5 separate regions of the Homo sapiens genome follow, and all the other regions are reported to be linked to region 5. The links are microRNA targets in miRTarBase. Many come from high-throughput screens and were not tested one by one. Region 5 holds a microRNA gene; each other region holds the end of a gene's coding sequence.
Evidence for each region. Region 5 holds the annotated microRNA hsa-miR-3941 (UUACACACAACUGAGGAUCAUA, at 2,540-2,561, opposite strand). A microRNA usually pairs through its seed, bases 2 to 8, with sites in the 3' UTR of a target mRNA and lowers its output. Matches are read on the target gene's strand: a 7mer-m8 pairs with bases 2 to 8, a 7mer-A1 pairs with bases 2 to 7 and ends in A, and an 8mer does both.

Region 1 (5,107 bases), not on the chromosome of region 5:
GCTAGAGCGGCTTTTGAAAAAGAAATATGAAGGCCACTGGTACCCTGAGAAGCCACTGAAAGGCTCTGGCTTCCGCTGTGTTCACATTGGGGAGATGGTGGACCCCGTGGTGGAGCTGGCCGCCAAGCGGAGTGGCCTGGCGGTGGAAGATGTGCGGGCCAATGTGCCTGAGGAGCTGAGTGTCTGGATTGATCCCTTTGAGGTGTCCTACCAGATTGGTGAGAAGGGAGCTGTGAAAGTGCTGTACCTGGATGACAGTGAGGGTTGCGGTGCCCCAGAGCTGGACAAGGAGATCAAGAGCAGCTTCAACCCTGACGCCCAGGTGTTCGTGCCCATTGGCAGCCAGGACAGCTCCCTGTCCAACTCCCCATCGCCATCCTTTGGCCAGTCACCCAGCCCTACCTTCATTCCCCGCTCCGCTCAGCCCATCACCTTCACCACCGCCTCCTTCGCTGCCACCAAATTTGGCTCCACTAAGATGAAGAAGGGGGGCGGGGCAGCAAGTGGTGGGGGTGTAGCCAGCAGTGGGGCGGGTGGCCAGCAGCCACCACAGCAGCCTCGCATGGCCCGCTCACCCACCAACAGCCTGCTGAAGCACAAGAGCCTCTCTCTGTCTATGCATTCACTGAACTTCATCACGGCCAACCCGGCCCCTCAGTCCCAGCTCTCACCCAATGCCAAGGAGTTCGTGTACAACGGTGGTGGCTCACCCAGCCTCTTCTTTGATGCGGCCGATGGCCAGGGCAGCGGCACCCCAGGCCCGTTTGGAGGCAGTGGGGCTGGCACCTGCAACAGCAGCAGCTTTGACATGGCCCAGGTATTTGGAGGTGGTGCCAACAGCCTCTTCCTGGAGAAGACACCCTTTGTGGAAGGCCTCAGCTACAACCTGAACACCATGCAGTATCCCAGCCAGCAGTTCCAGCCCGTGGTGCTGGCCAACTGACCATCTACCTGCCCGTGGGGCCAGGAGCACCCAAGACCACAGAAAAGAGAAAGGAAAGGCCAAAAAAAAGAGGAAAAGAAAAATGTACAAAAAGATTTTCGATCTTCTCACTCTTACTTCTAGAAAAAAGATCCAGCCCAGGCACGGAATGGGAGGGCCCTGCAAAGCACCCAAGTGTGTTTCACTCACCCCTTACCGCTCGCCCACCGGCCTGTGATTTATTTGGTTGGTTTGGGTTTTATATTTCTTTTTCTTTTTTTTTTTTCTTACATGTAGTTTTCTATATAACATCTTTAATGAGTGGCTTCCTGTGCTAAGAATGGTCCAGATGTGAACTGCTGCTCCCTGCTCCTCCCTTCCTCCTTCACACTCCTAGTTTAGGATTGATGTGTCCAAGCTCATAGGGAAGAAAGAGCTGCAGCTGGAGCCTGACCCTCCCTGGAACAGGGAGAGGCTGGCCCGTGTCACTGCCTCTGTCACCCAGCTATCCTCGCACTCAAAGCCATCCAACCTCAGCAGGCCTTCTCGGGCCCTGCCACCTGAATAGGTCTGACCCCAGTCCCCACTCCCTTTCAGGCTGGGCCACAGGGAGTTGCTGGCTGGCCACTTGACACCCTCCCCCTGGAGCTGATGTCTGTGACTACAGGGAGATTAGCACTTCGTCTAGTGAAACTCCTTTCATCTCTGTCCTATGGCCCCACCCCACCATTCCCTCTAGGCCCAGACCATCATCATGGCCCTGGCCATTGATGTGTATGGGCTTTCTTTCCCTCATGCAGCCCCTTCTTCCCCAGGCTGGATGTTGTGGGTAGGGAGGGGTGTGTGTGTGTGTATTTGGTTTGCTGTCCTTTTTTAAAGGATTCCAAGCCATGTGAAACTTCCCTTCTGGATGTGATTCTGGGTCGCAAGTCCTTATTTATATGTGAGGCTGGGGAATGGGCTGGGGGTATTGGCAGTCCTTTTGCAGGGCAGTGTGTGTGGTGGGGTGACACCGCTGTGGCTTAGCCCAAGACACTCCCAGAGGAAAACACTGCAGAAGGAACTGGTTTGCAGACTGTGGAAGGATCTGCAGTTTTGTTTTTGACCAAAAAAATAATAATAAGTTAGCTCTGAAGGGCAGAGGGAATACCCAAGCCCCTGATGCCTATGAGAAGTCCCTGGACTTCAACCCTCCTGTTGTTTGGCCTTAGCCCAGAGGGAGCTGCTCACCTGAGCACCCTTGGGGGTGGGCAGAGAGGCAGGGTGGGATTTTAGAGTTAGTGTCTGTGCGGGGGCAGCCCTGAGCCTGGAGTTGAGACTTTGGGGTCTCTTAGTTTGGAGGTGTTGAGTGCATTTGTGCCCCTGCCTGGTTGAGAGCTTCTTGGTACCTCTTGCCACCCCTTCTCACTGCCCTGACCCAACCCCACTGGACCTTGATGCTGCGAGGAGTGGTGTCCTGACGGACTCAGCACTCCCGCCTGATGTATTGGATCATAGGAGAGCACTTGCTCTCCTGCCTCTGCCAGGAGAGGGCTTGTTCCTCCAACTCTAGGAGGCCAGGCAAGCATGGACAGGAGCCAAGGGAGCAGGGTCATTAACTTTTTCTTCTTTGCAAAGTGGGCACTTGGCATCAGGGTCCCAATCACCAGAAAGCACCAAAGCCCCTGGCACCCCACCCACTCCATCCTACCCAGGGACCCCAAGTAGGCAACTGTTATGGCAGTGGGTCCAGCCCAGGCCAGCACTGCCAGCCTCCTCTCCCTGCAGTAGGCACCAGCTCTACCTCCCCCGGCAGGCAATGTCCTGGCTTCTCAGCCCAGCACCATCTGTTCCCCTAGACTTCTCAGGGGCCAGCCCAGTCTGGGCCACCCTTTGTTTCCCTCATCCTCGGCTCCCACACAGGTGACAGACCCAGCAGATAGCTTCTCTCTGGGAAAGGTTGGATGCTGCCTTACATCCCCTTCTAGCCCTCCTCCCATCCACACACACAGGCACCCACCCACACCAGGTCGGCTTGTTTCTCACATGTAGGGAGAGAGGGGAGACCAACCCCTTTGTGTCTTTTGAAATACGAAGAAAAATGTGTGTTCAGGAGCATGACTCCAGTGCTGCGCTCTTGGGCCCAGTTCAGTCTGTCTTGTCTCAAATCTAGGCATTTTTGCTTCAATTTTATTTTTTTTAAGAATACAAAAACAGAAATCTGCACTAATTTACCTGGTTTCGTAGGAAAACTTTTTTTTATTTTTTACATTTTTTGGTGTCCGTTTGTATTGAATAATTTGCTACATTTGTAAAATGTAAGAGGTATATAATATATGTATATTTCTAACGTAAAAAACATAATTTTTTTCTTTTCAAGATTTTTTCTTAAAAAGATGAGAGAAACATATTTTTTCAGGAAAAACAAACTTTAAAAAAAAAAGAGGAGAAATAAAACCTTTTCTCCCCTTTCCCCATCCTCTATCTATCCCTCTTTCCCAGGAACAAATCAAAAGGTGGATTATCTTCTGAAGAATGGAAACTGTTAGTCCAGAATGATGTGTTTTTCTCAATGCAGTGAGTTATAGATTCTCTAGTTTTCTCCCTAGGGATGGGAAGGGGGCATTGAGGCAAGCCTGGAGAGGAGCCCGGGGAGCAGGGTCATGAACTTTTTTCTTTAGTGAAGGAGGAATACAATCAAGGGTTTTGTATTCAGAATGTTGTGCAATATTTTGGAATGGGACATTGGTGTGTTTAGAGATTTTAGTTTAAAAACAAAACAAAAAGATTGATCAAATCTGTACAGTTTCTATTGTTCCAGATTTTTTTAAGTTTGTATTAAAAGCATGATACATAATAGCCTTCTGCCTGCTCCTGGCTTGCTTGGTTTCTGGGGTCCCTTTTGGGATGGAGAGAATGGGAGTGGCCCAGCCCTTACAGACTCCAAGAAACGATTGGTCCTCCTTACAGTGACAGCCTCGGATGGACATAACTGTCCTGGTGCCCCTTCTTGACCACCTATCCATCCCATCAACACAGGATACATCATTGTGCTTGCTACCGCAGATGCTTTTCTACACTGGAAACAGGTTCCACAAAGTTAGAAACCGCTCCAGTTCCCTTAGCCAGTTGGTGGTGGCAGCAGAGCCTGGAGAACGGGGTACTTCATGGCTCTTTAGGAATTGTCTATTCCTGGGGGGAGGAGAGCGGGGACAGCCTCCAGCCTACTCTAGATCTAGTACTTGATCCTTAGTACTAGATCCTTAGATGTGGGCAAGGATGAGAACAGCTTGCCTAAGCCAGGTTCCATCCAAAAGCCCGGTGCTTGGATTCTCAACCCTTTTCTTGGGCTGGACAATTTCGGAGCTGCCTTAAGAGTGAGACAGCCCAGCCCAGAGAAAGCCACCCTTCTGCCAGTGGCCGATTTCCTTAGGAGCTCTGCTATCTCCCAGTGGCCCGGGCCATATTTTCCCCTTCCCAGGGCCTGTGCCTATCAATGCTGCCCATCTAGGAGAGAAACCTCCCACCTTGGCCTCCCTCTCAAAGTGCTGGGATTATGGACGTGAGCCACCATTCCTCATCCTGTTGAATTTTCACAGGGATTGTTCATCCTCACAGGGATTGTCTCCATTTTGCAGTTAAGAAATAGGCTGGGTGCAGTGGTTCACATCTGTAATCCCAGCACTTTGGGAGGCCGAGGCAGACGGATCACTCGAGGTCAGGAGTTTGAGAACAGCCTGGCCAACATGATGAAACCCCGTCTCTACTAAAAAAAAAAAAAAAACAAAACAAAAAACACAAAAATTATCTGGGTGTGGTGGCGAGCGCCTATAATACCAGCTACTTGGGAGGCTGAGGCACTAGAATCTCTTGAACCCGGGAGGCGGAGGTTGCAGTGAGCTGAGATCGCGCCATTGCACGCCACTTGCTCTGGGTGACAGAGCAAGACTCCGTCTCAAAGAAACAAACAAAAAAGAAATAGGCTCCAACTTAGATTACCCTAGACTCATAAAACTAGTAAATGGTAAAGATTCTGACTCGTGTCTGATTTTTTCATTTATTGATCCAAGTGATACTGGGCAGCGTCAGTTCTTGTCCACTGGAGAATAAATCAGACAGTGTCTGCCTTCCCAGAGTTGACATCTCACATGCATTTGATACAATTATAACTGCTATAGAAGAGTGATACAGGTTAAGGGTGGCAGG
Region 2 (5,107 bases), not on the chromosome of region 5:
GAATATTTTTGAATGTTGGGGAAAAATTTCTTCAAACTTAAAAACTGAAAGCAAACAGTTTTTGTGATGGTGATATATGTTCCTTGTTCAGCCACTGTCTCATGGACATTGCAGTGAGGTCTACCAGAGGGCTGAAAAGAATTCAAGATGTAGCTCTTAAGATTTTTTTTTTATTCCATTATAGGAATTTAAAAAGTAATTCCTCTCTGTGAAAAGCATTTTGTTTGAGATTACATAATTTTTCATCATCAAGAAAAAAATGAATTGGAAATGTTTTTATTTACCATGTAGATTGTGGATCCCAGTCAAATTCTGGAAGGGATCAACCTGTCTAAAAGGAAAGAGCTACAGTGGCCTGATGAAGGAATCCGGTTAAAAGCTGGGAGAAATAGCTGGAAAGACTGGAGTCCGCAGGAGGGCATGGAAGGCCATGTAAGTTCTTTTACAAGCTGGCGGTCTGGGGCTCTGCCTTTTTTGAAGTCCGCCTCACTTGGATGCATGGTTTTAGCTGATTTATACTTAAACGTATAATTTTCAGACAAAATTGCTACTACTAATCCTAGGTAGGGGTAAGAGTTTGTGAGTATATTCCAGGTCTCCAGTGCTAACTTCTTGTTTTATTCTGAATCATTAGGTGATTCACCGATGGGTGCCTTGCAGCAGAGATCCAGGTACCAGATCCCACATCGACAAGGCAGTGCTTCTGGTCCAGATTGATGATAAATATGTGACTGTAATTGAAACTGGGGTACTAGAACTTGGGGCTGAAGTGTGAGCCAGTGTTTATTATAAAGACATTTCTTTTTCCCTCTCAATTCCAAGGCATTGGAAAAAGAGAGGAACAAGCAGAAGATGCCTGCAGGTATCACTTTGATCCTATGTGGGAGCGACTGAAAATAGAATGAGCTTGGTTAAGCACCTCTCCTTTGCCCTTCACCCTGACTCCTGTCACTGTCTCCATCCCCAAATAAAGCTGAAATATTTTTTTAAGTTAGCTGCCGAGAAAACATTTTGCATGAAGGATAAAGTTCTGTTAAAATACATCCTTAAAAAAAGTTTTTCCTATGCATTGCCTATGCTTTAAATCAACAAACTCTTCATTTCTAAACTATGATCTCATATTTTTCTAATTTCTTTGCCAAAAATAATTGCCATGTTTTGTCATAGAACATGAAATTCATTTACCTTGATTTTTAAGAACAGACCAGTGTAGAAATGTTCCTTTTGACTTATAGCAGTATAAAAGTTTAATGTACAGTGAAAGAGACTATGAACAGACATAGATTTATCTTATTCCTTGAGCGCTAAAAACTTTAATAAAAAAAACTGCACTAATTTTTTACAGCAATGCACTAAAGTCTGAGATTTCTCAGAACATTTATTTATATATAAAAATAAAATACCATTATTTAAATTGCCTTTGGGATTAGCCCCTTCCCTTTCCTTATAAACACAGGTAGCAGGAACTGTGCTGCTCATTTTTCTGTTAGTAGTGTGTACTTCATGCCAGGACATTGGGTATTTTCTTTAAAGTGAATATAGAATCTCAAGATATACGTAGCTTCATCATTGACATTTCCCAGAGCCAATAGTCAGCGGATCGGTCTTGTGAACACCACTGCCAGCTCCTGTGTCTACATCTCAGAGGAGCCCATGTGCTCTGCTTCTCTCCACCAGAGCAAGCTCTGCTGGGCGTGCTTCTGGGAAGAAAACAATTTTCTTTAAGAAGAAGATGAATGTCCAGGAATTTAAAGAAAGGATCGATTGCCTTTTATTTATGAGTTTCTAGCTCTTGAAGTTATTCACATGCAGTTCAGTTAGTCAAGTAAAATTTTTTTTCAAATAAAAGTATCCAAGTGGTGCAGTTATTATTATATCCCTCTTTAATAATTTTGCTTTTTATTTTTCCCCTCTTCTTTTTCTGTTACTTGAATTTTATTTCCTGTAATTTATAGTGTGTAGCTGTAAATTGAAATATTTATAACTGTGAAATTGACTTAATTCATATGTTGTCTCATAACTTTATTTTTTTTAAATGCATATTCAGGGAAATATATTACTCATATTTACAATTGGGCGATATAGGAACTTCAATTTAGATTTAATTTGCAACTCTTAGCATTTTTTAAATCCTTGATAAAATTTTCCCTTTTGGTGTGAAACTCCAAAGAAAATTGTACATCTCCTCTGAGCATTTAGGAGCAGCCATCTTTCTACCCCTTGTGAATAAATCATTGAAAGAAACAGGTAAAATTAATTTTAATGATACATTTTGTTTCACCCAGTATAGTCAAAGTATTACTATTTCATCATATGTCACTAGCCATATTTCAAGTACTCAATAGCTACATGTACCTAGTGGCTACTGTATTAGACAGTACAGATTTAAAGTATCTTTTGTTGAGGTGACAGAAGAGAGAAGCTGTTTTTCCTACCAATTCTGATGTAGATCTCACATTATAGCATAACATTACAGTAGAAGGAATGAAAACTAAGAAAGTAAATAGTGAACATACAGAACTTACTGCATTTCCACTTTAAAACCTATTTATTTTCCCTTTTTCTAATTTTAAACTTTTGTGGTCATTCAGAACCTAATGTGCCTTGTGTTGACATTTCCATAGACTTCACACTTTACAAAATTTACTGTTTAAAAATACTTGTCAAATGATTTACTGAACCTTTATACAAAAGTACCCTTTCTAAATTGACCATTTAAAAATGTATTTTTGTGATACCGTCATTATGTTCTGCATTTGCCTCATTTTGGCAGATCTACAGTATGCCATTAAAGTTTAGTGTTGTTTTTGGTTTTGGAGGGTTTTTTTCTGAAACTGAATTTATAATCTATTTCTCTGTATACGTATATTTTTAAAATCTTCTGAAAGGAACTATGTTCCCTGCTGCTTCTTCCCTTTCTGAAGTGAATATGATCTTTTCATGGTCATTGCCTAGATAAAAGTAGAGCCTTTTCAATCTTAGATGGAAGATAATTCATTTTCCCACACAGAAAAAAAATCTGACCTTTACATGATTTAATCTGAAGGGCTAGAATTTTTTAATTTCTAGCCCCTCCTCCAAAAAAATTTTAAACACATCACATACTCTGAAAAGTCAGATTTCAAATGCAAGACTAGACTTTATATGGAACATATATGTTGGGTTTTGATTTTGGGTAGCAATTGACATATATTTTTCTCAAAACAAGTTGAATTTTGTTAACATATATAATTCTTTAGTGAATTTATAAATTAGGAACCCTGAGAAGAAGCCCTGTTGTTTTTCTTAAGAGTCTAAAACTGACAATCTTTTAAAAATCATAATACTTTTCTAGTAATTGCATCAGGGAATTGGTGATAATTGAAGAAAGATCCATTTCTTAAGAATAATTTGATCTAAATTATTATATGGAAATAAACATACTTGTGTTAACTAAATTGATCATAAATTCTTGTTCCTGCCTCACCCCTCACCCCCCAGAGAATAGTGAGTGACTCGTTTAGATTCTCTGCTTTTTTTCAGTTATGTACAAGACTTCAGCATACATTAATGTCTTTAGTTTATAAATTTGCCAATGCTTTAATTTCCATAATTTGAAAGTTAAAAGATGTAACTAAAATACTAGCTTTTTTATTCATTTCCTTTTGGTGGAGTTGTATGATTGAAAACTTTGCTTTTTCTTGTTTAATTCTTCCGCCACCCCCTCTTTTGAGAGAAAGGTAATCGTGGAATGAGTTATAAATTATTGCCTTTTTTTCCTTTATTTCTTTCATTCAGTGGCAAAAAACATTTTATAACTCCTAAGTTTTTGGTTAATCTTCCAACTTATACCTTGGTGTGAACTCTCTTTTTACACCATTTTCAACACTGGATAAAACTTTAATGTTGACTTTTTGCTAAAGAACTTTAATTTTTCCAAGAATCTAGATTAACATAAGATGTTGATATTTAAGGAACTTGGAAGAGTAAGTGGTGAGGCTGTATGTATATTTTTTAAGAGATTACCTTTTAGGAAATTAGTGAACAAACTTAACCAGTGTTCTGCCTTCTTTGACTTTGTTACTGGAGGATGATAATCTATTTCTATTAGATTCGAAGTATTTTGGAAAATATTTCAAGTATATCTGAACTACTTATAATTCTTAAAACAGAAGTAGTCAGACAATATTTGTATCCTAAGTGAGATATGGAAAATTACTCTGTATACTAAATGTCAGGCAATGAAAATGTAAGTTTTTGTGTAGAAAACCCATTAAGAAGATGTGTTTTTCTTTCTGAATTAGTTTATTTTTCCATCACATACCAAAATATAAAAATCAGCCTCACATTTTTCAGCAAGTTTAGCTTATAGCCTTGATAAATTCCTCTGTGCTTCTGAGCAGCATCCTTCTGCCTCTGCTTAGCAGCTCTGCATTTGGTGGATTGCTGTTGTGAGTCATTCATCCAGCACTGGGCCTTTTAAGCTGAAGATTCACCCAGTGTCTAAAGTTGTCCTTTTCTTATAGCTAGCTTTCAAGCATCTTTCCTCCTAAATAAATATGTGACTTGAGAAAAAGGTAATAATGATTTTGTCAGAATTCTTTGAATTTATATTTACTAGCTACTTAACCATAAACTGCTGTCCAGATTGTTAATTTCATTTATATTTATTTTAATTAATTTGTCATGAATATGGACAAAGCCTTTTCTGGGGTGTGTGTGTGTGTGTATGTTTGTTTTTTAAGTCGTCATTATTCATTCGTATTCTTTTTCTGTGTAATGTAATCATATAAAGTTACTTTGGACAGAGACCCAGTTAATTTTCTCTTTTGATAGGATACATGGTTTAGATAAGGTATAAAGTGTCCCTTTTTATTCTAGAGGCTTTTCCTTTAATTCAGAGATTAGTGGAGATAATAACGTCAGTCAAGGCTAATGTGGTACATGGAACTTGCTAATGGAGGTTGGACATTCTGTTTCAGTCTTACATGGATATTGTTTCATTGGTGTTGAGGAAGAAAAAAATTAGATACTACCATGCATTGGGACAGCATAATTCTAATATTACATTGAATATGGCTTTTTAAAAATAAGTATTAAAAAGCCAATCGTTTTCTCCATTTATCTA
Region 3 (5,107 bases), not on the chromosome of region 5:
TTTGTGACTTGTAGGTTAGTTACCCTCCTAAGTTACTGTATCAGAATTATGATGACAACATAGATCTTCTGACTCTTAAACCAGTGTTCTTTTCCTCACAACAGAGATACACTAAGTTCAAAAAGTTTTTTACTTAAATCTAAGGATTGGATAGTTGATAGAGTTAGTGTACTTTTGTTATTAAAATATGAGTGGAATGACAAAGTTCAGACATTTGCACACTTTAAGAAATGTTTATGGAACTTTGCTATTCTACATTTTTATTGCATTTTTGCAGTTTATGCCATTTATTGAAAATCACAATTGTAACAATTTTCTTAACTTCTGTACATGAAAAAATAACATTATTTGTTAATAATTTACTTTAAGATATTGAAACCATCTGAAAAGAAAGCTAAATACCAGTATGGTGGACTGAATTCTGGACGTCCTGTCACTCCACCTCGAACAGCTAATCCGCCGAAGAAAAGGTGAAGAAAGGAATTCTGTAAAGAAACCATCAGATTTGTTAAGGACATACTTCATAATATATAAGTGTGCACTGTAAAACCATCCAGCCATTTGACACCCTTTATGATGTCACACCTTTAACTTAAGGAGACGGGTAAAGGATCTTAAATTTTTTTCTAATAGAAAGATGTGCTACACTGTATTGTAATAAGTATACTCTGTTATAGTCAACAAAGTTAAATCCAAATTCAAAATTATCCATTAAAGTTACATCTTCATGTATCACAATTTTTAAAGTTGAAAAGCATCCCAGTTAAACTAGATGTGATAGTTAAACCAGATGAAAGCATGATGATCCATCTGTGTAATGTGGTTTTAGTGTTGCTTGGTTGTTTAATTATTTTGAGCTTGTTTTGTTTTTGTTTGTTTTCACTAGAATAATGGCAAATACTTCTAATTTTTTTCCCTAAACATTTTTAAAAGTGAAATATGGGAAGAGCTTTACAGACATTCACCAACTATTATTTTCCCTTGTTTATCTACTTAGATATCTGTTTAATCTTACTAAGAAAACTTTCGCCTCATTACATTAAAAAGGAATTTTAGAGATTGATTGTTTTAAAAAAAAATACGCACATTGTCCAATCCAGTGATTTTAATCATACAGTTTGACTGGGCAAACTTTACAGCTGATAGTGAATATTTTGCTTTATACAGGAATTGACACTGATTTGGATTTGTGCACTCTAATTTTTAACTTATTGATGCTCTATTGTGCAGTAGCATTTCATTTAAGATAAGGCTCATATAGTATTACCCAACTAGTTGGTAATGTGATTATGTGGTACCTTGGCTTTAGGTTTTCATTCGCACGGAACACCTTTTGGCATGCTTAACTTCCTGGTAACACCTTCACCTGCATTGGTTTTCTTTTTCTTTTTTCTTTCTTTTTTTTTTTTTTTTTTTTTTTGAGTTGTTGTTTGTTTTTAGATCCACAGTACATGAGAATCCTTTTTTGACAAGCCTTGGAAAGCTGACACTGTCTCTTTTTCCTCCCTCTATACGAAGGATGTATTTAAATGAATGCTGGTCAGTGGGACATTTTGTCAACTATGGGTATTGGGTGCTTAACTGTCTAATATTGCCATGTGAATGTTGTATACGATTGTAAGGCTTATGTCACTAAAGATTTTTATTCTGATTTTTTCATAATCAAAGGTCATATGATACTGTATAGACAAGCTTTGTAGTGAAGTATAGTAGCAATAATTTCTGTACCTGATCAAGTTTATTGCAGCCTTTCTTTTCCTATTTCTTTTTTTTAAGGGTTAGTATTAACAAATGGCAATGAGTAGAAAAGTTAACATGAAGATTTTAGAAGGAGAGAACTTACAGGACACAGATTTGTGATTCTTTGACTGTGACACTATTGGATGTGATTCTAAAAGCTTTTATTGAGCATTGTCAAATTTGTAAGCTTCATAGGGATGGACATCATATCTATAATGCCCTTCTATATGTGCTACCATAGATGTGACATTTTTGACCTTAATATCGTCTTTGAAAATGTTAAATTGAGAAACCTGTTAACTTACATTTTATGAATTGGCACATTGTATTACTTACTGCAAGAGATATTTCATTTTCAGCACAGTGCAAAAGTTCTTTAAAATGCATATGTCTTTTTTTCTAATTCCGTTTTGTTTTAAAGCACATTTTAAATGTAGTTTTCTCATTTAGTAAAAGTTGTCTAATTGATATGAAGCCTGACTGATTTTTTTTTTCCTTACAGTGAGACATTTAAGCACACATTTTATTCACATAGATACTATGTCCTTGACATATTGAAATGATTCTTTTCTGAAAGTATTCATGATCTGCATATGATGTATTAGGTTAGGTCACAAAGGTTTTATCTGAGGTGATTTAAATAACTTCCTGATTGGAGTGTGTAAGCTGAGCGATTTCTAATAAAATTTTAGTTGTACACTTTTAGTAGTCATAGTGAAGCAGGTCTAGAAAATAAGCCTTTGGCAGGGAAAAAGGGCAATGTTGATTAATCTCAGTATTAAACCACATTAATCTGTATCCCATTGTCTGGCTTTTGTAAATTCATCCAGGTCAAGACTAAGTATGTTGGTTAATAGGAATCCTTTTTTTTTTTTTTAAAGACTAAATGTGAAAAAATAATCACTACTTAAGCTAATTAATATTGGTCATTAAATTTAAAGGATGGAAATTTATCATGTTTAAAAATTATTCAAGCACTCTTAAAACCACTTAAACAGCCTCCAGTCATAAAAATGTGTTCTTTACAAATATTTGCTTGGCAACACGACTTGAAATAAATAAAACTTTGTTTCTTAGGAGAAAATGATTCTGTAATTCCAGTGTCACTAATTTATATTGTTCTTTCCTCTGATTTTTTTCAGGTTAGTGATTTTTTTGTATACAATTTAATCCAAATGTTATGACATTCAGAAATCATGAAACACAGTAGATATCTGTTATAATGTGGTGTATCACATGGATTATAAAGCAAAGTTATGGTCGATTTCTATTCTTGAAAGAATCAACTACAGTGAATCCTTTGCATTTGAAGCCTTAACATGCATTGCTTTAATTTTGCCCAGGGACAAATTTTAATAATCAGCAAGACTGGTTTGTGCAAAGCGTTGAGTCATCAGGTATTTAGAGCCTAGCCAGCTACCCAGTATCCATGCTGCCATATCCCTTCATTGTAAAAAGTACCTAAACATTCGTGAAATGATTTTTTTTAGCTGAAAAATGCTGGCAAGAAGAATTTTAAAGCTTAAAATAGGTGGTAAATTTGAAGTATGAGTGTGTTCACGAGAAACATAGGCTTTTCAAAAAAATTTTTATTCAAGGCAAAGCAAGGAACATCTTGAGATATGTCTCAAGAATATAAAGATGTATTATTTTAAGCCAAGGAGCTGAAATATATCTCAGTTTATAAATTCAGGTATATTCTTTTTGTCTCCATGGCAACCATAACTTTTGAACCAAAAAAAATTGTTTTTACATCTTTATGCTGAAAATGTGTTTAGATTAGGAATATGGTCGGGCTGAATTTGCTGTTGCTCCCTAACCAAATCCACCTCTTGTTTTCCTTGTGAGTCCATGGCTAAATCAAAGCTGCCCCTGAGAAGAGACTTAATCCAAGCCTGATTGTACTAGTGGCATCACTTAGAAGTAGGCTTTCCCTCTTCCTAGTAGATCTCAATGTTTTATAATTCCTTAAAACAGCTGAAAATTGGGACAACATACTTTACGCAATGAACAGTAGTTAAATAGGAAATAAACTAGTTCCATATAAGTATACACCTAGAGTTTTAATTACCTTTATAATGTTTCTTAAAAGTGAAACTTAGATACAATTGTGATTGGATACTTAGATACTAAGTGAAACTTAGTGTAACAATTTTGATCTGTTAAATTGGATTTTACATGTACATTTGAATGCCAGAATTTCTAAATAAATCCCCTGGTTAGGAAATTTTAAAAGTCAAAGCTTGTTTTCTTCAACCACTACCTTCTACATTGGTTGACTTAGACCGTAAGCTTTTTAAGTTTCTCATTGTAATTTACCTTCTCATGCAGATTGCTGATGTTTTATTAAACCTTATTTTTACAAAAATGACCATAAATCTTTGCTTCTTTCCTCTTAGGGATCTTTGCTAGTTTATGTGATTATGAAATCTTACTTACAACACCACATTGTTTGGGGTATACAGGGTGGAAGATAGCAAGTGAACAGGGGGTGCGGGTGGGGAGGGTTTGTGTGTGTGTGTGTGTGTGTGTGTGTGTGTAAGAGAGAACAAACTAACGGCCTGAGGCTAATAGGTTCAGCATTCCTTTCAGATACTATATGCAAAAAGGTGGGAACCTAAGGTCTGTTCCTGGAGGCTTTTCAGTGAAGCCTGGCATAGGATCGGCAAGTTAAAATATGTATTAATTTTTACAGCTGCCTAATCAGAATGATTCAGCAGATTTACAGGCCAAATTTTTCCTACAAAACCAGTGACATCACAGCTAAACATCTAGAACTTTCATAGATTATTGTACAAATTTATTAAAAGGCACAGTAATTTATGGTCTATCATGTAAACACTGATTCTCGACAAAACCACAAAGGCAAGTAATACAGTGCAACAGAAAAAAGTAGTCCAGAGGAGTTTCTTTTTTTCTTTTTTTCTTTTTTTTTTTTTTGAGAGAGAGTCTTGCTCTTGTCTCCCAGGCTGGAGTGCAATGGCATGATCTTGGCTCACTGCAACCTCCACCTCCCAGGTTCAAGCGATTCTCCAGCCTCAGCCTCCTGAGTAGTTGGGATTACAGGAGCCTGCCACCACACCCAGCTAATTTTTGTATTTTTAGTAGAGACGGGGTTTCACCATGTTGGCCAGGCTGGTCTCTAATTCCTGACCTCATGATCTGCCTGCCTCGGCCTCCCAAAGTGCTGGGATTACAGGCGTGAGCCACCTCTCCCGGCCAAGAGTGTTTTCTTAATGTAACAAGTTTAATCTGAAGTAAGTCTTAAATCTCCTAGTATATTTTTTGGAAAAAAAAAAAGCCAAAGAAACAAAACCAGAGTGTTGAAATGCTACCTCCAATATATGTATAACTCAAACTGATAATT
Region 4 (5,107 bases), not on the chromosome of region 5:
CCCCATTTCAGTGTAAAGGAAACCTGCTCTCAGAATGTGGCTCAGTTTGCCTACCCTTCCAGCTGCCGGGCCAGTGCCTTCACCTGGATTACTAGTTAACTTTGTTTAATTCTTACAGCCAGGCAGTATGGAAATCAACAAAGACCACCCAAGGGAGAACAGACAGAGGCTTGCTACGGCAAGGGGGTCAGCACCATCACTTGCATTTGGCAGGGACTCCAAGACAGGCAGGGACTGGGAAAGCTTTATAGTGAGAAAGAAAGGGAAGGCTCCAGGTGCACCCTGATTGGAGGCTGCTGGCATGAGAGACACTGGAGATGGGCAAACTAGAGGTGGGGCATCCTAACTGATTGGTTAGGGGAGCATATTTGGCTTTCTCTGATTGATCCTGAGTTGGAAGTAGGGACAAAAATAAGGAAGCTGGCAGTCACTGACTAGGTCTTCACCCTACTGAGCAGATGCTACAGACATTGTGGTTGGTTCTCTGAGCTGGTTGCTACAGAGGTGGTGGATAGAGTTTTATTATTATATGTAGTTTGGGCATTGTCCACTTGCATGTCAGTCTCTCGGTGGTGAGACAGGATTAGATCTGTTTTATTTCAAAGCGGCTGGTTAAGTCACAAAGTAGAATGAGCCTCATCCTAATGTGAGAGCTCCACATTATGTTTTGCAATGAAATGTTTCTTTGTATTCCTTTCTTCTTGCCATTTTCTAGGATGACAAGTGTCTCACTCCCACCTCTGGCTGAGTGTAGGTCTACCAGGCAGAAGGCAAAGCAGAGACTGTTAAACAGAAACTGGCTGAGGCCTAGAGGAACAGCATCACTTGATAAGGGTATCCTTGGAAAGAACTGAGAACACAGGAAGAAGAGAGGAGAAAAGACAAAAAGTCAAAGTCAAATAAACATTGGTGACCTTAAGAGAAATGCCTGAAATCTCTAAATCCAAACTCCCTTTTCCAAGGGCCTGAGTCTTGCCCAGGACACTTCTACATTTCCACGCCCACTGAATATGCCAGGCATGTTGGTTTATTGCAGGCCCCTGTTACCTATCTCCTACATTAGGTTGTAAAAGATCTAGCAAAAGGCACAGGGCCCAGATGGTTTTATGGGAGAGTGCTATAAAACTTTTGAGGAATAAATGGTTCTTATTTAAACTCTTACAAAGCATTAAAAAGATAAAATAAAATTCTGAATTTATTTTATGAGGTATGTTTAAATTTAATAGTAAGACAGCCATGGAGTGCCCAAAAAGGAAAACCTTATGAATGTATATGCAAAGATTCTAAGTAAAATATTGGCAAGTTAAATTCTGCAGTTCCCAAAATACTAACATACCTCAGCCTAATAGGTTTTTTCTGAGAATGTAAAGATTATTCAGCATTAGAAAATAAAGGAGAAAAACTATATGCTCAATAGATATTGAAAAGAGCATTTAATAAAATTCAATCCCCATTCTTGATTTTTGAAAAATGGTTTTAGTAAGCTAAGAATAAAAAGAAACTTCCTTAACTTAATGAAAGATATTTATCAGAAATGATTTCTTTAAACCTGACAAAACATAATAGAAACCACAGAGGTGTTCCCATTAAAGTCCAGAATAAGATGTGGATGCCTACTATTGTTGCTATTATTACTCAATTTTCCTCCAGAAAGCTCCCAACCTAAGTAATAAGACAATAGAAATAAATGAGAGGAGAACACACACACACTTATGAAATATAAATGTAAAATTATCATTATTTGAAAATATTATTTTCTACTTAAAAACTATAAGATATGCACCTAAAATTCTATCTAGAAAAATCTAATCAAGAAAAAGAACTCATTCTCAATAGGAGTAGAAATTGCAAACTATCTTTAAAATGAGCTTATTTGCTGAAGAAAACATTAAAATGTTACTAGAGGCCGGGTTCGGTGGCTCATGCCTGTAATCCCAGCACTTTGGAGGCTGGGATGGGCAGATGCTTTGAGCTCAAGAATTCAAGACCAGCCTGGGCAATATGGCAAAATCCCATCTCTACAAAACAATACAAAAATTAGCTGGTCGCGGTGGTGTGCACTTGCCGTCCCAGCTACTCAGGAGGCTGAGGTGAGAGGATCACTTGAGCCCAGGAGGTTGAGGCTGCAGTGAGCTGAGATCTTGCCACTGTACTCCAGCCTGGGTGACAGAGTGAGACCCTGTCTCAATAAACAAAAAAATGTTGCTAGAGATTATCAAAGAATAGGTGGATTGATAAACCTGAATGAGAGCACTCAATATTCAAATAAGTCAGATTCCCACTAATTATAAATTCTATATAATCACAATCAAAACACCAATGGGATTTTGAGGATAAAAGGAGAGGGGTGGCATGCTTCATAGACTGACATTATCACATGAAAGACAAATGCACAAAAATAGCAAAGGAAAAAACTAAAGTAGAATAAAAATATGGGAACTCAGCCTACCAGACAGCAAAAAAGAATAAAGTAACTTTAATTAAAACACTGTCATACTAATGCAGGAACTGAAAAATAATATCAGAACAGAGTTCACAAATGGACCTCTGTGCATGTGGGAACCTAATATCTGATAAAAGTATACTTTCACAGCAGTAAAGAAAGAATGGACTATGAAATAATGTTACAGCAACTAACTATCCATTTGAAGGGAAATGAAACTTGTTAGATCCCTAACTCACACCATTCTCTGCTTAAATCCATATAAAATATAGGTTTTATATATTAATTTAGAGGGAATATATATGAAATATATGAAAATATATAAGAAATACTATATAATATATAAGAAATACTGTATAATACTAGAATAAAACACAGATTATTTCAATAATCTTGAAGTGGTGACAGCCTTTCTAAGAAGGCATGAAACTCAAAAGACTTAAAGGGAAGGATAAACAAATTTGACTACGTGGAAATTAACATTTTACACTTGGCAAAAGACTATAAACAAAGTTAAGAGACAAATTAGAGGCTGGAAGAAAACATTTATACCAAGTCAGCAGAGAAAAGATTGATCACACTTATTAGAGTCAAAGATTTCCAACAAATTAACAAGCAAAGGGCAAACATCTTAAAACAAAAAGACAATGCAGAAAAGAAAATACAAATGTCTGGCAAATAAGTGGAAAGATGACTTCATTCATGATTAAGGAAATGCAGCTTTTAAAATCGGTTTTCCTCCTAAATAGGCCAAAAAAAACCCAAAAGTCTGAGAATGCCAAGTGTTGGTGAAGGTGTAGAAAAATAATCAGTCTCCTACCCTCTTGGGAGAAATGTAAATTGACACCACCATTTCAGAGAGCAATTTGGCAGTTTCTCTCAGAATACTGAATGCCCATACCCTTTGCCCCAGAAATCCCGTACGGAAATCTACCTCGCAGAAATACTTGCACGCCATGCAATCATGTTCATGGCGGCAATGTCTGTAATTGATGAAAAATTGGAGCTACTTAAATGTTCATGATTATGGGACCAGCTAAAGAAAATATGACACATCCCTGCCTTGGAATTTCATGCAGTCACCAATAAAGATTGGGTCAATTCAGATGGCTGATACAGAATATAGTTAATAAAGTAAAAATATAGTGAGTTGACAAAGCATGACCACACTTTCATTTTTTAATTTGCATGTAGTGTGACCATGAATAACACACACACACATACACACCGCTAGGGAGTTTGTGGGACTTATGCTTTTTGTCATATGCTTCTATTTTTTATGGACTTGTTTTTACTGAGCATGTATTACTTTTAGACTTTTATAATTTTTTAAACCAAAAACATAACTGAGTAATAATTGAAAATTTAAAGTCTATAAAGACAAACGCATTATGTTTCATTTCTTAAGCCTGAGTCTACTTTCAGCCAGAGCAACTCCAGGCTGCAAGTGCAGTTCTATGAAGATTGTACCTTTATTAGGTTGGTCTCAGGTATTGCATGCAGGCGGGCACACATGCCACCCACACCTACACACCTCTACACACACACAAAGTTCTCCCACTCTGCATATGCACGTGCATCACACATTTTTACAGTTTCTTGAGCAGCTCACAGAACATTTTCGAATGTATTTGTTGGTGCAAGGGAATAAATAGCCAGAGCCGAGAAGGCAGAAAGGGACGCTTTGAGATTGAAAACCCCATACTACCTCCACCATCCCAGGCAGGTGAAATATCCCGTGACATCCTTGTGCCCCTCTGGCTTCTGGCTTTTCCCATTTGTCCTCAAGATGAGTGAGCCCAAGAAAATGTGGCCATCAGGATGGATGCTCATTGACTCAGGGCTGTGTGCGGCTTATGGGTCCTCGTCCCTGAAGAGTGTGAGGTTGTGCTTTTGGATGTGTCCCAGCAGCACCTGTCCTCGCTGCTCCAGGGTCTGGAGGACCTGCTTCAGCCCCTGGGCTCCGCCTTGGCTTTCCCAGAACACTGGGTCCATCTGCAGCGACTTCAGCAGCATGTTCTGTAGACACCCTGATGCGAGAACCTTCACGGCAGACTCAGGAAACCTGGAGCAAAGGCCCCAGAGCCCCGTAACAGAAAGAAAAAGCAACAGTAATCTCAGAGAATTTCAGTAACAGGTGATGCCAGATGGCCAGAGCTTGCATAGCTGAGGAACTCTGGTAAAGTCACCTGGCAAACTCCCCAGACCTGCACCTGCTATCTCACTAACAGAGGACCCTTTGCCTGGCTTTGCTGTGAAGGCAGGGGACAGACCTTTCAGATGGGTCCCATCCTACAGAGAAGCCAGGTGAATAAATTCCGCTATCCCAGGCTCCACTTGGCAAATGCAGGGCCAGAAAGAATCCTGGGAAGGCAGAGCTGCCTGCCAAGAGTGAGCTGGGAGGGGTAGACTCTCTGGCCTAGCTCTCTCACCCAGAACAAGGGAAGGACTAGCCTTCCCACACCCCAGCAATACAGCTAGTATTCTGCAGGCACGAGGCCCTCTGGATATTGGGGTAGGCCCTGCCAACTGTATCCCCTCTCAGCTTTCCCAGGGCTCCCCACCACCGCCTAAAGTTCTGATCCAATAACTTCTGTCTGATGGACTGTGGGCTTCTCAGGGCCACAGTTGAAGGTCCCAAGGTTTGCAGCAAGGCCATCAGGT
Region 5 (5,107 bases):
TCCCAGAACAGTGCACCAGGTTCATGGAGAGCTCAATGAATGTCTGCTGCATGAATGACTCTTCCCGGGAGTATTGGCTTTAAATAAAATCTATGAGACAACCTGCTAACCAAGCACAAGGATAGCCTCCTGAGACAACAAGGCAGGTACTTTCTGAACCAAGTAACTACTACTTCCAGTTGAGGCTCTTAAGCTTTGAGAAAGCCCCATACTAAAATGGCATTTCTTGCTATGCTATGCCATTTTTCATTCATTCAAAGACACTTATTGTCTATCAAGTGCCAGGCCCTGTGATCATAAAAGACTACAAGAGTCTTTACCCTTAAGAAGCTCATTTAATTTAGTTGCAAAGACAAGAATGCACGTGATTGCAAAACTCTGGGAAGAGCATTATGATACAAGTATGCATAGGGTACCACAGGGCATATAAAGAGAAGACACTTAACCCAGAGTCTAAAAGCTTCCCAGAAGAGCTGACTCCTGAGGTGAATCTTAAAATATCCCCTTCCTATACACTAGTGCTCTGCTGGCCAATACAGTGGCCATTGTGTGTAATGATGTAAATATAAATTAATTAAAATGAAATTAAGTCAGTTCCTCAGTCACACTAGCCACATTTCCAGCACTCAACAGCTACATGTAGCTAGTGCCCTTGGACAATACAGATACGGCACATTTCCATTTGTGCAGAAAGTTCTAATGGACAATGCTGTTCTGGTGACTTCATTCAAACAAAGTATAAGTTCCCTTCTCAAAGATCCCATACAAAAAGAAGACGTAGGATAGACATTTATACTACAGAATTGCATTCAATGTCTCCAATAAGCTATTTCAGGACTCAGATCACCCTACAATATTTTAAATAAGGATGCAACTCAAACAAGGCGAAGAGGGAATTTCAATTTCTGATTCTACCTTCAGGGAAGATAAAAACATCTTATGTGAAGTGATTTATGAGTCAATGTGAAATAGGTAAAGAAAATCTCAAGAGAAAGAAATACAGAGGGTTAAATATTGACTTTTACAGACAGAATTCTTTACACCACTTTCCTCACTGTAATGTTACTCTTTTTCCCCTTGTACAATACTTAATACCTATTTTAGTAGATAGGTACTTTGAAACTATGTAAATATCTCATTCCTCATCATATATACAGATATACATTCATTCACCAAAAAGTATTGTTTCTCTGAAAAGACTTGGCTTCTATTATACTTAATATAGTTCCTGATTTTATAAATCACTGTGTATGTGACCATTCTCCCATCTCTGCCACCACCCCTTCCCCATGTGGATGCCCTTCTCTCCCTACTCCACGTGGGGCTAACCCCCCAAGAGGACAGCCCCTTTAGAGGAAATTTATAGACTAGAGGATTCTGAGATCTTCAGATCTTTCAAGGTGGAATGCTGCTTTGAAGATAGGATCTTTTTACTTAAAAATGTATTTAAGAAAAATATCATTAACCAAAAGCATCACAACCAAATAAACTATATTTACCTCTAAAAACTAGACTTATTCTGAAACTACAGAACAGTACAAGAAATTATATATAATCACTACATTGCAACACTTTTCAAACATTCTTATAGCAACATTTATGACGTAACAACATACCAGTTCAGATTTGAAGTAGCCTATTGTGTTTTCATCCAATTGAAAATATCTTCTCTTCCAGTTTTTCATCTACCAGAGATGAACACAGACATAAGACTTGTGTTTCTAAGAATGTCAAATGTTAGTCACCACTTAATTACCCTGATATGAACCCACAATCAGACATGCCAAGCAGTGAAAAATCTCATTACTTCCCTTAGAGATGCGATAAATTAAACCTCATCCCTCTCTAGCTACCCAGGCTTTGAATTCCTAATTCAATTTCTGGTGCCTGGCTTTCATCTTTTATTGTATGATTTTATGTGTTTTTTTTTTTTTTTTTTGAGACAGAGTCTTGCTCTGTCACCCAGGCTGGAGTGCAATGGCGCGATCTCGGCTCACTGCCTCTGCCTTCTGGGTTCAAGCAATTCTCCTGCATCAGCCTCTCGAGTAGCTGGGATTACAGGCTCCCATCACTATGCCCAGCTAATTTTTGTATTTTTAGTAGAGACAGGGTTTCACCATGTTAGTCAGGCTGGTCTCAAACTCCTGACCTCAGGTGATCCGCCCACCTTGGCCTCCCAAAATGCTGGGATTACAGGCGTGAGCCACCATGCCTGGCCTATTTCATATTTTTAATGTTGAAACTTTTTTTTTTTTTAAAAGCACTTCCCCTTCCTCCTACTCCTCGCCCCCGCCAACCCCATGTAAAGAGCAAACACAGGAAATGTTATTAAACCACATCAAGTTTCTCCATCTGTAAAAACATATGAATTCTTCCACAAGTACTTTATACATAGTAGTAAAGCACTAAATATTTAATAAAGTAAACCTATTTTGTACAAATATTTTTTGTCAATAAAATAACAGTTTTTGCAGAAGCACTTAAATATCTCTGACTGGTATTTTGGACTTAAGAGTAAAACAAAAAGGAACCATCAGGCTATGATCCTCAGTTGTGTGTAAAATTAGGGCTTTCAATCTACACACAACTGAGCATCACAGCCTGATGAGAATTCTGACTCTACCTGCAGACATTGTACAGTAAGAAACCCCTGCCCTCACCATCATTTTCCTCAGCCTAAAGCAGGTCAAACAGGTGAAAGGACATTCCCCTGGCTGCCCTAAAAAAATTAAGAGTTGCCAAAAAGTGATGAGAAGTCAAACAGAACCACCAAAATAATTTTAAGTATTTCTTTACTCACAGACTTAAAAAACATTTTCAAACTTTAAAGTTAATTTTCTCATGAAATTCTAAAGATTTAGTTCACATAGAAAGAATGGCTTAGATACTAAGGTATGTTGCAACCTTAGAAATATTGGTAAATTTACTTGCTCTTGCAAAAAATTCATCATGGAACTGATTATATGGGAATACCTGGGCTAACCCATAACAGCTTTTACTAAGTACCAGGTGCTGTGCAAAGGGAAACACACCTTTCTTATTTACATCTCTTAAAAAACAAAAACAAAACAAAACAAAACCCTAGATGGTAGGTTTTATATGATATTCCTTAAGACAGAAACTGAGGGCCTGAGAGGTTAAGTAAGTAGCCCAAGGTCAGAGAGCTTACCACGGAGGTCAGGCCAATGCCTAAACAAGGAAGAGACCTCCTAGGCACCACTCCTTCTCCTGCCGCTGGCCTGCCATCTCCCCACAACAGCTCTCTTTCCCTGACCCACTCCTGAGTATGAGTAAAGATGAATAGAAACACTTTCTAAAACATTAAACTGTTAGGAAAGCTCATTTAAACTGAAAGTCAGTGGTAATGGGCATTAACTTTCCTGGCCCCCTGCAAACCAAGCAAATAACAGCATTGAATTATAAACAGAGAATATCCCCTATTTTATCTCCTGACTCTCCTCAGCATGCCGGTCTCTCACTTTGGGTCTTTCATAAAATAAAGCAAACAATTTCCATGTTAATTTGAGTTTGCTAGAACGTAATCCTTTTTCATTATTTCATGTATTTTGTTAAGCTACTCACCACTGCTCCTTGTTTTACACAATATCCAGCTTTGATAACCGCACTATCTTGAGGTGGTTTAGGAGTAAAGTAAGGAAGATGGCTTTGTGACCGTTTCAGATTATTTCTGTCAATACTTTCACCACATTCATTTACTTCTTCTTTCTAAAATGAAGCAAAATAAATAAATTATTTTCTTGCTTGTTTAGCATACTTTTATTTCATATTATCCCAGTAGAAAATCTTAAAATCCACCTTAGATTAGTCAGAAACAGATTTTTGAAGAGTTTTCTAATTAATCTGAGATACTTACTCTTAATTTTCCTGTCACTGATTAAAGCACAAATTTCCATTCCTCTTGTTTTGCACAAGTCCTGCCACCAGTGCTCTTTTTTGGGGAAGGAGTTAACTTTTTATTTTGAAATAATTATAAGGATTCACCAGAAGCTGCCCAAAAAAAGTACAACAGGTCCTATGTACCCTTTCACTAGTTTCCCCTCAAAGGGAAACGGCGTAACATTATCAAAAAACAAGAAATGGACATTGGCACAACCCACAAACTTTATTCGGATTCCACCAGTTTTACATACATTCATCTATGTGTGTCTATACAGTTCTATGCAGTTTTATCACATGTGTAGATCTGTGTAACTACTACCACATTTAAGACCCAGAATTGGTCATCACCCCAAGGCTCCTTTGTGAACTTTAGAGTTCCTACCCCTAAATCCCCTGGCAGCCACTAATCTGTTCTCCAAGACTATAATTTTGACATTTTGAAAATGTAATGTAAATGGAAGCATACAGAAGGTTATCTTTTGAGATTATCTTTTTTCACTCAGCATAATTCTCTAGAGATTCGTCCAGACTGTTCCTTGTATCTAGAGTTCATTCCTTTTTATTGCTATATTTCCATGGTATGGATGGATGACCAGTTGTTTAACTGTTCACCCATTAAAGGACATTTGAGTTGTTTCCCACTTTTAGCTATTAGGAAAAAAGCTGCTATCAACATTCATGCACAAGTTTTTATGTGAATGTAATTTTCCCTTTCTCTACGATAAACACCTAGTCCTGCAAATGCTGGGTTGTACAGTAATCACAAGCTTACTTTTATTATTAAAAAAAAAACAAAACATAAACACTAAACTGTTTTTCAGAGTGGCTAATTTTCATTCCCACCAGCAACACCTGAGAGATTATGTTTCTCCTCAACCTTGGCAGCATTTGTGTCGTCACTTTTATTTCAGCCATTCTGAGAGGTGTGCAGTGATCTTTTATTGTGCTCTTAATTTGTATTTTTTCCCTGCTAGCTAATGATGGTGAACATCTTTTCATGTGCTTACTTACCATCTGTTTATCTTTTATCTTTTGATGAAATATCTGTTCATGAATTTTCTAATTGGATTTCTTGGGCTTTTTACTGTTGGGTTCTGAGTTCTTTCTATGTTCTAGATAAAAGTCCTTTGTTGGACATGTGGTTTGCAAATATTTTCTCCCAGTTTGTAGCTTTTCTTTTCATCCTCTTAAGAAGGTCTTTCATAGA

Region 1: miRTarBase lists TOB2 as a target of hsa-miR-3941. Seed matches in the 3' UTR shown: 7mer-m8 at 1,770-1,776.
Region 2: miRTarBase lists PCNX1 as a target of hsa-miR-3941. Seed matches in the 3' UTR shown: 7mer-m8 at 1,493-1,499, 7mer-m8 at 1,955-1,961, 7mer-m8 at 4,703-4,709 and 7mer-A1 at 4,753-4,759.
Region 3: miRTarBase lists PPP1CB as a target of hsa-miR-3941. Seed matches in the 3' UTR shown: 7mer-A1 at 812-818 and 8mer at 2,398-2,405.
Region 4: miRTarBase lists GASK1A as a target of hsa-miR-3941. Seed matches in the 3' UTR shown: 7mer-m8 at 3,981-3,987, 7mer-m8 at 3,971-3,977 and 7mer-m8 at 3,665-3,671.

The regions. Positions count from the first base shown.
Region 1 is chr22:41,432,147-41,437,253 of GRCh38, reverse strand. It overlaps TOB2 (transducer of ERBB2, 2), which reads left to right. Exons shown (of 2, transcript NM_016272.4): 2 at 1-3,760. The coding sequence ends at 943. Among named protein-coding and RNA genes, the nearest start is that of TOB2, 12 kb to the left of the region's middle. RefSeq lists an enhancer at 1-358.
Region 2 is chr14:71,109,161-71,114,267 of GRCh38, forward strand. PCNX1 (pecanex 1) reads left to right here. Exons shown (of 36, transcript NM_014982.3): 35 at 292-432; 36 at 635-5,107. The coding sequence ends at 775. Among named protein-coding and RNA genes, the nearest start is that of PCNX1, 200 kb to the left of the region's middle.
Region 3 is chr2:28,798,830-28,803,936 of GRCh38, forward strand. It overlaps PPP1CB (protein phosphatase 1 catalytic subunit beta), which reads left to right. Exons shown (of 8, transcript NM_002709.3): 8 at 370-4,111. The coding sequence ends at 474. Among named protein-coding and RNA genes, the nearest start is that of SPDYA, 9.5 kb to the right of the region's middle.
Region 4 is chr3:43,055,577-43,060,683 of GRCh38, reverse strand. GASK1A (golgi associated kinase 1A) reads right to left here. Exons shown (of 5, transcript NM_001129908.3): 5 at 2,969-4,508. The coding sequence ends at 4,298. Among named protein-coding and RNA genes, the nearest start is that of POMGNT2-AS1, 28 kb to the left of the region's middle.
Region 5 is chr10:122,414,478-122,419,584 of GRCh38, reverse strand. MIR3941 (microRNA 3941) reads right to left here and starts at 2,620; the gene lies at 2,518-2,620. It overlaps PLEKHA1 (pleckstrin homology domain containing A1), which reads right to left. Exons shown (of 12, transcript NM_001001974.4): 7 at 3,583-3,726; 8 at 1,617-1,685.